2 separate regions of the Homo sapiens genome follow, and region 2 is linked to region 1. The links come from fine-mapping of genetic effects on plasma protein levels. A gene starts in region 1. The other region holds a variant in brackets. All regions are shown on one strand. Distances are between the middles of the regions.

The links. PIP is the chance, under the fine-mapping model, that this variant and not a neighbour inherited with it causes the effect. The UK Biobank Pharma Proteomics Project read protein levels with antibody pairs (Olink). The fine-mapping took linkage between variants from a reference panel, not from the people measured, so its PIPs are less certain.
Region 2: its variant is fine-mapped to the plasma level of the PTH1R protein (UK Biobank, PIP above 0.99).

The regions. Positions count from the first base shown.
Region 1 is chr3:46,874,349-46,882,678 of GRCh38, reverse strand. It overlaps PTH1R (parathyroid hormone 1 receptor), which reads right to left and starts at 4,958. Exons shown (of 16, transcript NM_000316.3): 1 at 4,836-4,958; 2 at 1,561-1,617. It also overlaps a transcript of MYL3 not described here.
Region 2 is chr3:46,736,626-46,744,955 of GRCh38, reverse strand. It overlaps the pseudogene PRSS45P. Among named protein-coding and RNA genes, the nearest start is that of PRSS50, 23 kb to the right of the region's middle. The variant G/C (reference allele first, on the strand shown) is at 3,268.

The DNA of each region.
Region 1 (8,330 bases):
CTCCCTCCCCCTTTTCTCTCTACGAAAACATTTGCAAGTTTCCAAAAAAGCCACCGAGCCGAGCGGCGCGGGGCTGGCGACTCCCCCGGGTTCCGAGGAGGCGCCGCCGACTGACACCGAGACAGAGCAGCCTGGCTGCTCCGGCCAGGCCCGGAGTCGCTCCTCCCCGACTCCGGCCACTTCCCCTCGGCGCGGGTCCCCAGCCCCGACTTACTCCGAGCGCGCCGCCGCGGCCCCCGCCTTGCCATGGATGTCGGGGCCCCCCCGACAGCCTCCCCAAGCCAGCGCCCCGTCCGCGGCCCCGGGGGGACTTCATGGAGCTCTCGGGATACCCCCCGCTGGCCGGCCTGGCCTCCAGCGCCCCCCGCCCGGCCGCCGCTCGGAGCCACCGCCCGCCGCGCGCATCCCTCGCCTCGGCGTCTGCCGCTCCCCTTCTCCCCGGCCGGGCGCCTCTTCCCTCCCCCGCGCCCTCCCGGGCCTCTCCCGCCCCCACCCCCTCCGCAGCCGCCGACGCGGGAGTGTGGAGAGGCCGAGAGGAGCCTTCCGCCCCCCGCCCCGGGACATTGCGCTAGAGGCCGAGGCCCGGAGTCTTACGGCGGCGGGATGTGAGTGCTGGGGAGACGGGGCGGGGGCAGCTGTAACATCGAGACCCGAGCAGGGAACCCGGGACGCCGCCGCCGCTTCATTCTCTTCTGGAAAGCACGGGCTTTTAAATTTTTTTTCCCTTGATCATCCGGCCCCCGCTGGCGAATAGAGACCCTGAGCCGAGAAGCGAGCCCTCTTTCATCATGGGCGAATCCCCTGAGGAGGCTGCCCGGTACCCCCGCGCGCCCCCGGCCGCGACGCTGTCAGTCCACTGGGCTCCCGTTCGGGCCGGGTCGGGGTCCCTGGGGAGGCCGCTCGGCTGCCAGCCCCGAGCCCGGCTTGGCTGCTGCCGCCCTCCCCCACGTCCAGCCCCACCCTCGCCTCGTCCCCTGCCCTCAGTCCCATCCCAGGCCTGTCGTTCCTCTCGGCCCTAGGCCAGCCCCGACCCCCGCCCAGGTCTGCAGCCACACATCCCGCTCCCTCCCTGCCCAGCGTCTCTTCGGGTCCGGGTCTCCGAGTCTCGACCCATTCAGCTGCTGGCCGGGCCTCTCCAGCTTGCCCAGCCCCAACCCCGGAGGCTCGAGGCTGCCAGACCTGGGGCTCAATCCAGACACCCACTCTCAGGCTTCACCTCCCTCCCCCGTTCCCACCCCCACTCCCAAAAGCTATCGGCCGGCTCGGACCGGGCCGCCTGGGACCCTCGACTTAGGGGAAGGCAAGGAGGAGTCCGCGGGGGTTGGGGCTGAACGGGGCGGGATTTCTGTGTTTGGCTGGGGAGGGCACGCTGGAGCTCTAAGAGGAGGGGCCCTTCGACCCCAAACCTACCACCTCCCGGTACCAAGTGGGGAAACTGAGGCAGAGGGAGGGGCTGGGGATGCCTGGAGCGCAGGGCTTTAAGGATCGCGGAGGAAGCGAATGCATGAGGCCCTGGGAAATGAGTCTGGGCTAAGCAACAGCCTGTGCTTGCCCGCTTACCAGTTGTGTGTCCTGGACACTACCACTCTTCGGCTGTCTGGACCTCAGTTTCCTCATCTGCAAAATGGAGAGGTTGGCCAGCTGATTCAAGGGCAATGTTAACTTTACTGTTTAGTTTCCACGAGGGTGGGCATCCTGGCCCATGGGCTCCAGGGGCTCTCAAGACTCAGCCTGTGGATATTGAGCTCCTCGGAGCCTGCAAACCTGCCCTCCAACCCTCAGTGCAAATCTGTCAAGCCCAAGTCCTAAGGCCTAGGATCCAGCTGCAGCCACCCTTCTGCTGGCTCAAGCCCATCCAGCTTCCAGACTGCACTCCCAGGTGCATTCCCCATGTATTTCTTCTGCTGCTACTTTCTTCTTCTTTCTTCTCCTTCTCCTTCTTCTTCTTCTTCAAGACAAAGTCTCACTTTGTCACCCAGGCTGGAGTCCAGTGGCATGATCTCTGCTCACTGCAACCTCCGCTTCCCAGGCTCAAGTGATTCTCCCAAGTAGCTGGGACTACAGGTGTGTACCACCAACCTGGCTAATTTTTGCATTTCTTGGTAGAGACGGGGTTTCACCATGTTGACCAGGCTGGTCACGAACCCCTGACCTCAAGTGATCCACCTGCCTCAGCCTCCCAAAGTGCTGGGATTACAGGTATGAACCACCAGCCTTGGCCCTCCCCATGCATTTCTATGGCTGCCTCCCTTCTCTGTGCCCACTGCCCTCATTTCTTTTTCTGGTGTTCAAGGGCTGTGCTATTTGAGACAGTTTCCTCCAAAAATGACTCTCCCTAACAGGAACTGTCTGCTAGACTCCTGGTCTTCTTCACACATCCACTCTCCTGCCTTTGTCCTTGCTGCTTCCTCTGCCAGGATCATACTCTTCTGCCTGGTGTAAAGGACACTCCCCTCCCTCCTTGTGTGCCCACATCCTCCGTTACTGGGGAGGGAGGTTGTGATTTCAGGGCTGCCTCCTATGGTATGTAGCCTCCTTGGGACGGAGGCCCAGGTGCCAGAATGGGCACCTAAAGAACACTTGTGGTTCTTCAGTGTTATATTTTAATGGTCTCAGCTTTATTATGCCTCTGTTTCTTTTCTTTTTTGAGACAGGGCTGTTGGCCAGGCTGGAGTGCAGTGGTGCGATCTCGGCTGACTGCAACCTCCACCTCCCGGGTTCAAGCAATTCTCTGGCCTCAGCCTCCTGAGTAGCTGGCATTATAGTTGTGCACCACCACGCCTGGCTAATTTTTGCATTTGTAGTGGAGATGGGGTTTCTCCATGTTGGCCAGGCTGGTTTCAAACTCCTGGCCTCAAGTGATCCTGTCTCGGCCTCCCAAAGTGTTGAGATTACAAGCGTGAGCCACCACACGCAGCATTTTTTTTTTCCCCAGACAGGGTCTTGCTGTGTCACCCAGGCTGGAGTGCAGTGGCACGGTCATGGCTCACAGCAGCCTTGACCTCCTGGGCTCAAGCAATCCTCTCACCTCAGCCTCTCATGTAGCTGGCACCACAGGCATGAGCTACCACACCTGGGTAATTAAAAAATTTTTTTTTTGTAGAGACGAGGTCTCACTTTGTTGCCTAGACTGGTCTCCAACTCTTGGGCTCAAGCAGTCCTCCTGCCTCGGCCTCCCAAAGTGCTGGGATTACAGGCATGAACCACCGCACCTGGCCTATGCCTCTGTTTCTAAGTGTCTCTAAGTTTTATGGTTCTGTGACCACTGATCTTCCACCCTGCTTTCCCCCTTGGTGATGAGAAAAGAACATTAATGGAGGGATTGGAAGGACTGAGAGATAAAACTAGAGGCTGAGGGGAGGAGTTCTTTTCAGATCTGACACCAGGGAAAACTTGAGATTTGGAAACATACTACTTGTACTTGGGAGGATGAGGGTGGGCTGTGGAGAGGGCTGCAGAGAGGAATCTGATGGGTGCTGGGTCCCTTAAGGGCATTCCTCCTGCCATAACTCATGTGCCTCACCCCAGAGTCCCCTGCTGGACATTCCACAGCTGTGGGTGGGGCCACAGATCATCTCTCTCACCCTCGGGCCTCTGGTTAAAGTGCTACCATGAGGGTGGGGGTGTCACACATTAACTGGTAGCACCCAAGCACCTGGCAGAGTCAGCTTGCCCTTTTTGACAAGCACGCCCCAGGGGCTCAGAGTCAGTTTCTGGTTAGTGTCAGGTCAGTGTTAGTTTCAATGGGGTTTGAAAAGGCCTGGCTGGGGGTGGGGAGTAGGAGTGAGTCCCTGTCTCTAATCCCCAGGCTGGGGCCTAGGAGGAGGAGCCAGGGTGGTCACTGGATCTCAGAACTGCAGTAGGGGCCAGACTCTGGCCCCACCCCTGCTGGTGTGGCAGCCCCAGGCTGACAGGCCTCTGCTGCAGCCATCCCACCGTGAGTAGGGCTCTGGCCAAGGTACACAGACCCTGGGGCCAGGGTGGGCATCAGACACCAACAAGCAAGGCAAGAGGCTCAGCTGTCTGAGCAATGCAGCCTGGCCTTCCTCCCTCAGAAAACCCCTTGGCCAGACCAGGGGTTCTCTGGGACTAATGGCTCACATCTATTTCTGAGTCCTTATATTTCCCCAGTGCTTCATCCCAACACTAGCCCCAAAGTCAGGCTGCATCCAAGCTTAGCCCTGATCCCAGACTGAGCTCTATCTCCATCATGAGCCCCAGCCTCAGGCTGAGTTCTTATCCCAGTCTGATTTCTAGCCCCTGGCTGAACTCTGACCCCAGGTTGTGCCTCCACCCAGCCCTCAACCCCAGACCTCTCTCGGCTTCTAGGCCCCTCTGGAAACTTTTTGAGGCAAGAGCCCAGTAGGGGAGGGGATGGCTAGGCCATAAGTGAAGCGAGGTGCCACTTTTACAGCCATTTCGGCTGCTCATAAACACCCCCTGACACCCAGCTGAGTCGCTGGAGGCTCCCATGGCAGCTGGCTGGGTAGCCCCCTTCCCTTGCAGCAGAAGCATGGCTGCCTGGCTTTCTTGCCTCTCAGGAAGGTGAAGGGAGGGGCGATGGGGGCACCTGGGGCCAGCAGGCTCTGTCCCAACCAGGGAGCACTCCTAAGGCTCCCAAGGAGCTAGAGGTATGGGCTTTCTGTCCCTGCTGGCCTCATGGTTACAAGCCCCCTGCTGTCATAACACCAGGTCCACAGATGTGTCTCCATGCGGGCATGTCTTGTCTGCCCCATAGCACGGCCCAGGTATTTAGACACTCACCCCCAGGGAAACCACAGACTTGGGCTTCCCAGCTGTGCTCAGGCCCCTAGGCTCCCCTGGCCCCCACTCACCTGCAGCCCATGGGCCTTCCAAGTCGGGCCTAAAGCTGCAGAGCAGACTCAAGTTGGCCACGGGGAGGCCATGGATAGTCCCTGAGCAGCTTCTGTGGCTCAGGCCTAAGCAAGGATAGTGCTGCTGGGGACAAGAAAAGACCTGAGTCAGAGCTTCCACTTGAAAAGAAAATTAATTATTTTTTACCAAGCCCTACACTGGCCCAGGACTTTGTCCCAGGCTCCTAGTCAGGAGTAGGAGGCAACAGAGGCAGATCCAAGTGTGCCGGTGTTCAGATGCCCAGGGCTGGGCCCTCCCCTCAGCACCCATGGGTCTGCCTGCCAGGTAACTGGGCCCACTCAGGCTGCCAGACACGTGTGTGTGCCTCAATAGTCCTCTCCTTGCCCTGCCATGCCTCTCTCTTAGTCTCTGTGTCCCTGTCTAACCCTCTGGTCCTTTCCACATCTCAGGAATATCAGGCTGCCACGAGGTATGAACACAGCCCCTACTAGTGACTTCACTCAAGTTTAAGGCACCCAGAGAAATCAGAGGGGGGCTGGAGGTGGTTCTTGCCTGTGTCACAGGCAGGAAAACTGAGGCCCAAGAAAGCCTGATCTGCCAGCACTGGGTACCCAGTGGCTCCTAGACGGAAGAGATGGAGGGGGCCGTCATTCCACTCCAGCCCGTGTCCTGACCCCTACAGCCCCACAGCCACCTCATATCTGACTCCTTGCCCACTGGAATGTGGGCTCCTGGTGAGGAGTCAGCCAGGAAGCCCTCCCTATCTGCCTCCCAGGCCCTTCCAGGCCCAGGGTCTGCTTAAGCTGTCACAGGTCTCAAAGGCAGGGGGCTGTGGACAGGATGACTTCTCTCTGTGGGTCTGTAGAACGAGCTGTGTTCAGAACCAGGGCTGGTTGCTCAGGATGAAGATGTGGGCAGACAGGGAGGCAGAGACCCTGCAAGATCCCAGAAACCTCACCCCCAGGCCCTGTGACCCGGCTGGAGGCTGCCCTTCTGCCTGAGCCCAGTCTGAGCTGGTTTGTGTCTGGAAGTCCTAGGCTCAGCCTGATGAGGTATAATGATTCACGTGGCAGCTGCCACTCAGCACATTCCAGCTGTAGCCCCCAGTGCCCTGCATGTGAGGCAGCTGGCCCCAACCACCCCCAGCCATTGGGCACATTCCTAGGGCCCCCCTCCCTGGGTCTTCCAGGCTCCTGGGGAGGGTACCACTCATTAGAGTTTCCAAAGTACTTTTTGTTTCACAAGTTAGTCAGGGAGGCAGGCTCGGTGATACCTGGCCTCCAGGTGGAGGAAACGGGACCAAAGAGCAGAATGGACTGGCCAGGGGACATAGTGAAACTATGACAAACAGCACTTATGGGACTCCTGCCCCAGCTACTCTGAAGTGCACTGCTCCAAGGGGTATCCTGGGACACGTAGGCTATTCTGTGACCAGGCCAGCGGAGGTCAGTGGGCAGTTGTGCCCAAAGGAGGGAGAGTTCCCCTGTGCTCTGTCAAGCCTCCCTGTTGCCCTGGCTCTTGACTGCCAGAGCCTCTACCTCCCCTGAGTCCACATGCACTGCCCTACCCTGCCCACAGGCCCCATCCTCACTGGCCAGGGAAGCAGGAGGCTGGGGCCTTTTCTGCTTTGACCTGTGGATCCCTGAGCCAGACGCCTTCCTGCTCATGGCCTCAGTTTCCTGATCTGTTGTTAACAGTTGGGCAGTTTCAGGCTCAAAGGGGATCTGTAAAGTGCCCAGGCACTTGGGTCTTGGATGCAAGCAGACCTGGGAGTCTGAAAACCTGAAGGCCTTTCTCTCCTCGAGCCTTGGGCCTGCCAGTTTGCGTTCCTCCTGTGGGCCCCAGCCCAGGGCTCTGGGGGGCAAGTCTGGCCCTCAGCTCCGGGGACAGGAAGTTGTATTTTGGTCCTGGGTTCTGGGGAAGAGGTAGGGGGAGAATGGCAGCTCAGACCCAGCCATGTTTACTCGGGCCCGGCCCCCTCCGAGCTCAACAGGCTCCCATTCATTGGGAGACCCATAAACCCTTTGGGGCTCCCTGAGGTTCAGAACGCCTGGATGCCAAGGCTGGATGCCGCCCCCAGACCTGCTGGGAGCTGTGGGCAGCAGGTGGGGCATGAGTGAGGCATAAGTGGGATGGTGGGTGGGAGCCTGAGACTCGCCTGAGTTTCCAGGTATTTGCAGCGTCGTAACAGTTCTTGCCCCATGCACATTGTGGAGCAGTTGGGAAATCCAGGGAGGTGGTGGAGGTTGAAGGGTTCCTTCCATGGCCACGAGGCCATCAAAACTGATTTCTCTTAGATCAGGCCCCAGAAGGGTGTCTCCTCAGACTAGGCTCCTGAGGGCATGTCCTCAAATTGCATGACCCTCAAGGCAAGGCTGAGACTGCTGTGTCCAAAGCGGAGCTGATGTCCTTGCTGAGGCTGCATACCTGGCCTTGGGTTGTTGACAGTCCACTCCCTGGCAGTGTGGGCATGGGCTTGCATCCCACTGGAGTAGGGCAAGTCTCTGGTCTGTTCCTCATCTGTTCAGCAGGAGGTCTTCACCGGAAGGGGAAGCACTGGGATTGGATGCTGAGGGATGGGGCCCTCAGGTCTGCATCCCTCAGTGTTGCGTGTTGTTACCTTTGTGCCCATCTCTGTGCTTTCTTTGGGTGAGTTAGAGCACCGTCCCGTGGTCCCTGGAAATGGAAGGGAGGCAGCAACAGTGTTCAATGGGAAGAACTGTGGCTTGGGGGTCCAAATCTTGTCCAGCTTTCCCATGACCTGGTAACAATTCTGTCCCCACTCAGGTCTTCAGTTCTCCCTGCCACAGACGGGTTAGAGTGGACTCTCTCCAAACCCACCCCCAGCCCTGCTGTTCCCAAGGGCAGCTCTGAGGGAGATCCCTGGTGGCATGGTGGCGGGGAGTGGGGTAGGAGAAAGGCCTCCCCACCAGATCCCCTTTCATCAGTGCCCCCACATGCCCGGGCAACCTGGCCAGCCACTGGGGACACTGGTTGGGGGTCCAAAGCGGGTCCTGTTTCCCAGACGCCTTCTGGGTAGAGTGTGATTTCCCGCTCCAGTGGTTGTAAAATCCCCAGAAGCCTAGTGCGTCCCTATTGTGTGTGTGGGGGGGGGTCTGTGCCTCGGAATACCCCCTCCCAGGCGTGTTTGACACGTGTTTCCGCCTCTCCCTGCATGGGCTCCCGCTGCTGCTATTTATAACCTTTAAGAGCTCCTGCCGACTGCAAAGTTTTCTTAAACTCAAAATATCACCGAGGTCCCGGGCACGCGTTCCAGAGGCCGGCTGGGCCCTGCGGTTTGAAGGGAGGAGGGGGCCAGGAAGGAGGAGGTGGTGGGGAGGGGGTTAGCTCAGACACTGGGTCCTTGCCGGGGGCTGTGGCCGGGAGCCCTCGAGTGGAGAACCCCTAGTCCTGACACTCCTGCCCTGTTAGGCCTGGAGGAACCCTCTATGTGGGTGGTCCTTTGTCGTGCCTTGCCAAATCTCTGGGCCTCA
Region 2 (8,330 bases), 140 kb after region 1:
AGGCCACTGCCCTTCTCTCACCCTCACTCTCCCCATCTCTGAAATGGGAAGAGGCCCCGAGTTTACAGCTTTGTGCAAATTGGCCCTGTAGGGCATCTAGGTCTCAGTCTTTCTCATCCTCCTCTATGTGGTTCCTGTGTCTCCCTGGCACACTTCTTCCTGAAGTTTGTGGTGAGCCCTGGTGGTCGGAGGATTTGGAAATGACCCGCCATTGGCCCTGGGAGGTGAGCCTCCGGATGGAAAATGAGCACGTGTGTGGAGGGGCCCTCATTGACCCCAGCTGGGTGGTGACTGCGGCCCACTGCATCCAAGGGTGAGTATGGCCCATGTGTGCAGGGCTTGGAGACCTCAAGCTACCATGGGCCCAGCCCAGCTTCCTCATTTCCTGAGTGAAACAGTGTGGGAGGGAGGTAGGGAGTGGGAAGGGCATCTGGGATAAGTGAGAATTGTGCTCGGGGTCTCCTGGGGGCCAGGGACTGAGCTAGGGCGGGAGCCCCTAGCAACAAAGACTGCACCCTAAGCTGAGCAACAGGAAAACCCAGAACACGCCCCCTACCCCATCACGCATGAGAGCATATGTGTACACCAACACTTCCACACCTGCACGCACAACACACAGACCAGGCCACCTTGAATCAATTTGAATGATGAATGAGGAGGCAGTCAGCTCTGAGATCTTCAGTGCCCTCAGGCTGGATTAGGCAGATTGGGTGGAGGCAGGACTCTTGCTAAAGGGGTAGGGCCACGGGGAGGTAGGAGTGTGTTCCTGCTTGGGAGTCTGATACCTACCAGGTGGGGCTCTCTGTTTCCCACAGCACCAAAGAGTACTCAGTGGTGCTTGGCACCTCCAAGCTGCAGCCCATGAACTTCAGCAGGGCCCTCTGGGTCCCTGTGAGGGACATCATTATGCACCCCAAGTACTGGGGCCGGGCCTTCATCATGGGTGACGTTGCCCTTGTCCACCTTCAAACACCTGTCACCTTCAGTGAGTACGTGCAGCCCATCTGCCTCCCGGAGCCCAATTTCAACCTGAAGGTTGGGACGCAGTGTTGGGTGACTGGCTGGAGCCAGGTTAAGCAGCGCTTTTCAGATGAGCAGGATGGGATGGGGGGTGGGTGCAGTACCACCGAGAGCACACTCCTTTCCTTCTGGGGCCTTTCCTGCTGGACCTGGTTCTCTGAATGTGTTGACCACTCCTCATGTGGTGACCATTGTCACTGTTTATGTGGACACCTCATTCAGGCCTGGTAGTGCCTGGGCTGGGCATGACCATCTGTGTCTTATAGAAGCTCAGAGCTGGGCATTCACTCATTCCTTCACTTGACACACTTTGAGTGTCGGCACCCAGCCCTTGGGATTAGAAATGCATGCCCTGCCTGGAGGGAAGTCATGATTGGGTGTGGGTGTGGGCACAGGCTGAGGAGAACAAGGCAAAGTTCTTGTCTGGTGGTCTTGAGATCCAGCTGGGAGGGATCTGGAATGAGCTCTGGGCAGAGGGACTGCCTTGAGGCCCTGGAGGAGGAGCGAGTGTTAACGAAGGTGGGGAGAGCGGCCGTGCCAGCAGAGCTGAGAGTCTGCAGGGAAGCAGCGCGGGGCTGGGCCCCAGATTGGAAGCGGCTGCACTGAGACTTGAGTTATGGCTGGTTTGGTTCAGAAGCAGAAGTTTCCCAAGAAGGGGATCTGGACTCAGAGCCTTCGAGGGCGGGGGCTTTTCAGACAAGGCCTGCACTGCAGGGGGAGGGGCCGGTGAAGGAGGGGAGGGCTTGGAGGTATGACAGGCGGTGGCTGGGCTGAGTCTCCAGGGTGAAGGGGACAGGACCCTGGACAGAGGTCAGGGTTGGGTGGAGTGAGAGGTCACTGCTCACCCTGCTAGGCTCCACAGCCAACTCCATGCTGACCCCAGAGCTGCAGGAGGCTGAGGTGTTTATCATGGACAACAAGAGGTGTGACCGGCATTACAAGAAGTCCTTCTTCCCCCCAGTTGTCCCCCTTGTCCTGGGGGACATGATCTGTGCCACCAATTATGGGGAAAACTTGTGCTATGTGAGTTTCTGGGAGGTTCTGGTAGCTCTGCTTCTGCTGGGAACCACTCCTGGGTGGAGGCAGTTCCCTGGGGCGGGGTTGGCCCGGCCTCCCTCCGTTACCATCACCCAGTAGTGCTCTGCTCCTGTCTTCCTTCCCCTGTGATGCTGACTTTTGCCCTGATTCTGGGGTGTGGGTCCCAACTGAGGAGCCAAAAGAGGACCCCAAGTAGTGAGGTCCTGGAGGAGTGAAAACCCTCCCAGCAGAGCTCAGAGGGTGGGCATGGGTCCACAGGGCCCAGCAGGCCCAGCTGGACCCACAGCCTCCATCACTCCTCTCTTTTTGCCTAGGGGGATTCTGGAGGGCCATTGGCTTGTGAAGTTGAGGGCAGATGGATTCTGGCTGGGGTGTTGTCCTGGGAAAAGGCCTGCGTGAAGGCACAGAATCCAGGTGTGTACACCCGCATCACCAAATACACCAAATGGATCAAGAAGCAAATGAGCAATGGAGCCTTCTCAGGTCCCTGTGCCTCTGCCTGCCTCCTGTTCCTGTGCTGGCTGCTGCAGCCCCAGATGGGCTCCTGACCTCCCTACCTTTTCCTCCTCCTGCCTTGCCTCTGCTGAATGGGGCCAGATGGTTTGACCAAGGTCATGTGTCCATCTTCAAAAAGAGTCAGGGTGGGGAAGAGTAACCCCTGGGAGAATGGGTCTGGCTTTGGCATCCCGGTGAGGAGAAGTGTGGTGGATGACTAGGCCTTGGGTGAGCAGGAGAAGGGAAGTGTGGCCTAGAAGGATTCTGGAATCTGGGACCAGGAGAGCAGGGATTAAACATGTGCAAACTTGAGCTGACTCTTTTCTCTTTTCTGGGGTAGTCCTGGGGGTTGGCCGTGGGTGGGATGGCAGAGCTTCCTGGAATTAAGTCTGCCAGGAGGCTGTCTGGAGTGGGGACTGCTGGTTTTTGCTGTATCATTAGTGCTGGGGTTTAAGGAAAAAGTCTGGGCCTGTGACCTCAGTTTCCTTGTCTGTAAAGTGGGCATGCTGTTAAGGGAACAGTTGAAACATGCAGGCTTTTAGGCTGCAGTAGGAGTGACTCACAATAGTACTCCAAAAGCAGCTTTCTTTTTTTTTAAACCAATTATAAAAGTAGTGCATGTTTATTGTAGAAAATTAGAAAACATAGTCGAGCCTAAAGAAAATAGACGTCCCCTGGAGTCCCACCACATGGAGGCATCCGCTTCTCATTTTG[G/C]TATATCTTCTTCTACATTTTTTTCTTAAAAATTATTGCTCATAGGCCAGGCGTGGTGGCTCATGCCTGTAATCCCAGCACTTTGGGAGGCTGAGGCGGGTGGATCACGAGGTCAGGAGATCGAGACCATCCTGGCTAATATGGTGAAACCCCGTCTCTACTAAAAAATACAAAAAATTAGCTGGGCGTGGTGGTGGGCACCTGTAGTCCCAGTTACTCGGGAGGCTGAGGCAGGAGAATGGCTTGAACCTGGGAGGCGGAGCTTGCAGTGAGCCGAGATTGCGCCACTGCATTCCAGCCTGGGTGACAGAGTGAGACTCTGTCTCAAAAAAAAAAAAAAATCTATATATATCTCTAGAGCTATACAGATATATATCTATATATATCTCTAGAGATATATATCTACATATATCTATATATATCTCTAGAGAGATATATATCTACATATATCTCTAGAGAGATATATATCTACATATATCTCTCGAGAGATATATATCTACATATATCTCTAGAGAGATATATATCTACATATATCTCTAGAGAGATATATATCTACATATATCTCTAGAGAGATATATATCTACATATATCTCTAGAGAGATATATATCTACATATATCTCTAGAGAGATATATATCTACATATATGTCTATATATCTGTATATATAGATACATATATCTAGATATATATAGTGGGTTACACCCTATCAATATAAAACATGCCTTTTGTCCTATGTAACATTACTTGTTTTTTCAAAGATCCAGATCAGAGTTCATTCTTAATTTTGGCAGTTCTTCTAATTGATTAAGGTACAATTTTATATTTTGTACTTTTTTTCCTTCAGATTTTCCTCTGGTTTATTTTCTACTCTTTATAGTTTTTAGATTTGAGTATTTAGGTCATTTATTTTCATTCTCTGTTATTCAATAATAAATATCTTTAAGGTTATGAATTTGCCTTCAAATATATATATATATTTCAAAGATATATATATCTAGATATATATATATATCTCATAATCTTCTTTTTTAAGAAAAAAATGTAGAAGAAAATATACCAAAATGAGAAGTGGATGCCTCCATGTGATTATTTTATTGCTCTTTTTGTAACCTCTTGAGTAGTGGGCTTAGTTCATTATTTTAGAGTTCTTTGTGTTCTAGTATTTTCAGTTAATTCCATAAATTTTCCTCTGAGTCCCACTTTAGCCATATTTCACAGGATTTGATACGTACTGGCCTCATTGTCATTCATTTCTGTATTGTTTATAATTTCACAGTATATTTCTTATTTAGTCCAAGAGTTATATAGAAGGGTGTTATTTAATTTCCTGATGGGTAGTTCTTGGGAGGAATGAGGGCTTCTTTTTCTCTATATCACTACAGTCATATGCCACATAATGACATTTCAGTCGATTACAGACCACATATACAAGAGTGGTCCCATAAGATTATAATGGAGCATATATAGAAACCTGATATATGGTAGTTGATAGTGGCATTGCAGACAAGTAAGGGAATGACTGACATTCACTAATGGTGCTGGGACATTTGGTTTTCCTGATGAAAAAATACATATACATAAAAATATATATGTACCATCTAGGCGTGTGTAAGCACAGTCTTATGTTTGCATGGTGATGAAATTGCCTAACAATGCATTTCTCATACTGTATCCCTGTCATTAAGTGATGCACGACTGTGTATGAATTTAATTATTTCTGCATTTTTGAATTTTTTGAGGTTTTATTTGTGGCTTAGTATTTGGTTAGTCTTAGTGAGTGTTGTGCGTCTGAAATGAAAGTGTGTGTTTTCACAAGTGTTCATTGCAGCACTATTCACAATAGCCAAGACATGGAATCAACCTAAAGGCCTATCAATGACACTGGATAAAGAAAATGTGTTACACAAACACCATGGAATACTATGCAGCCATAAAAAAGAAAGAGATACGTCTTTTGCGGGAAAATGGTTGGAGCTGGAGGCCATTATCCTTAGCAAACTAATGCAGGAACAGAAAACCAGATACCACATGTTCTCACTTCTAAGTGGGAGCTAAATGATGAGAACACATGGACACATAGAGGGGAACAACAGCAGCATTGTTCCTGGAGCCTCCTTGGTTTTAGTGATGCAAAGGAGGAGGGAGAGGAGCAGAAAAAATAATTGTTGGATACAAGGCATAGTATCTGGGTGATGAAATAATCTGTACAACAAACCCCTGTGACACAAGTTTACCTAAGTAACAAACCTGCACATGTACTCCTGAACCTAAAATAGTTAAAAGTGTGTGTTTTAGAACGAAGTTTGAGCCATAACTGATTGGATCAGGCTTGTTGATTGTGTTATTCAAATTATCTCAACACCTGACATATTTTACGGCTGCATAATTTGTTGATTTCTAAGAAGTTTACTGCAAAACTTAAGAATTTGCCTATTTCTTCTTGCACAATTCTTGCTTTCTATGTTTCAAAGCTGTGTTGTTAGGAATACAGGGTTCATGCCTGCTGTATTATCTTAGTGGGTTACACCCTATCAATATAAAACATGCCTTTTGTCCTATGTAACATTACTTGTTTTTTCAAAGATCCAGATCAGAGTTCATTCTTAATTTTGGCAGTTCTTCTAATTGATTGAGGTACAATTTTATATTTTGTACTTTTTTTCCTTCAGATTTTCCTCTGGTTTATTTTCCACTTTTTATAGTTTTTAGATTTGAGTATTTAGGTCATTTATTTTCATTCTCTGTTATTCAATACTAAATATCTTTAAGGTTATGAATTTGCCTTGGGCACACCCAGTAAGGTTTTTAAATAACGTATTGCTCTAATTATTAGTATTATTTTATTAGTAGTTTATAGCTATTCCGTCTCTCAAGGACAGAGTGAGTTGGAGAAGACTCTCCCACTGCAAGAGAGATTTTCCAGCTTCTCATGTGTTGCTGATTGATTTTGTTTCATATGTTTGATGTTATTTTATTGATGGACAGAACTTTATGATGTTACATATTGCAATTTGTGCCTTTTTCAACACAAAATAGCTTTCTTTTTCTGTTTAAATAATTTGTCTTGAATCATTTTTAGAGATTCACATTGCCATTGCCACTTTTGCTTGCATATAAATATATTTTTGCCTATCTTTTAAAAATTTAATTAATTTCTAATTTTTAAAATTAATATTTTTTGAGACAGGGTCTCATTCTGTTGCCCAGTCTGGAGTGCAGTGGCGTGATCTCAGCTCACCACAATCTCAGCCTCCCGGGTAGCTGGGACCACAGGTGCATGCCACCACACCTGGCTAATTTTTTAAATTTTTTCTAAAGACGAGGTCTCACTATGTTGGCTAGGCTGGTGTCGAACTCCTGGGCTCAAGCCATCCACCCACCCCAGCCTCCCAAAGTTCTGGGATTGCAGGTGTGAGCCACCAAGCCCAGCCACATCTTTTTACTTTCACCTTATTTATGCCACTTTGTTTTTGGTGTGTCTTTAATAAGTAGTATGTGGATGGGTTTTTTTCTACCCAACATGAAGATCTTTTTATTTTAAAAGTAGAATTCTATGCATTCACATTGGTTGTGATAACAGATATGCCTGATCTTTATTCAGTTATCCTGTTTTGTTTTATTGATTGGTTGTTTCCCCCAAAGAATTATTTTCTGCAAAGGCAGAAGAGTGATAGCGTTTCTCTTCTCTGAAGTTTCTCTTTTCTTTCTCCCTCTTTCCCTTTCTATGTCTTTCCCCCTGGAGGGAATTTGATTGTACAGATAATAATTTCCTTGATTTTCTACCATATAGCTCTAAAATTAGTTTGTTTTGCCTGTTTTTTAATTTCATACAGTACACAGACTGTATCTGACTTTTGTATCTGAATTGTCTCACTCAGAATAGGGTTATGAGCGTCACCTTCCAGCTAGGTGTAGCAGCAGCTCATCCATTCTCACTGCCGCTGAAGATTCCGCGTAGCTGTTGCACCTTGGATGGCAGTTGGGTAGTTTCCAGCTGGGACCCTTCCCAGCAGCACTGCTAGTGAACAGTCTCTTGCACCTGTCCTGCTGCATCTGTGCAGTTTCTAGGGCATGAAGCCAGGAGTAGAACTGTGGGTTGTGGGGTAGGCACACTTTCTGCTCTGCTAAATGATTCCAAACAGTCATTTATAGTGGTCATGTCAGTTTATCTCCCCAGCAGTGTGTGAACAACCTCGTCACTCCGTGTCCTTGGCAGCACTGGCTGCAGGGTGGAGCAGGAGCTTCCTGCATGGACAGTGTGAGGAGCCTGGGATCCTTGGGAAGGGAGACCTCGGGGGAGTGGTGACGAGGTGTCCCCAGATGTCATTCATTCTGCTGATTTGTGAAGACCCAAGTCTGCAAGTGGCTTCCTCTTAGGAAGCCACCCTGCCAGGTTAAACATACCTAGATTTCCTCAACCCAGGAGCTCTTTCCTTTGAAAATACAGACCTTGGGCTGGGCATAGTGGCTCATGCCTGTAATCCCTGGAGCTTGAGACCAGGGCAGCACAGTGAGACCTTGTCTCTCAAAAAATTAAAAAAAATTAGCCAGGCATGATGGTGCACACCTGTGGTCCTAGCTACTCGGGAGGCTAAGGTAGGAGGATTGCTTGAGCCTGGGAGGTGGAGGCTGCAGTGAGCTATGATCTCACCACCATCACACTCCAGCGTGGTGACAGAATGAGACCCTGTCTGGAAAAAAAAAAAAAAAGAAAAGTAAAGAAAATACAGACCCTGAGGGAAAAAAGAAACCTCCAGTTCCACCTCAATCACATCACATACTACAAGAACTAGTTATCTCCCTCTCAGTGCCTCAGTTTCCACACCTCCAGGGAGGCGTGAGAGGGGGTTCACAAAGGAGCCTGGGCTGGGCACTAGGGTGCTTCATGGGCCAGGTACCAGGCACTGTCACGAGCCAGGCACATCGTACTGTCACAGGCTCAGAACTACACACTGGGGGCACCATCAAGGCCAAGGCTGGACATAGGGTACACTGCAGAGAGCTGGGCCTAGGAGGCACTGTCACGGGCCGAGCACCGGGAGTACCACTCCAGGGAGGTTCCT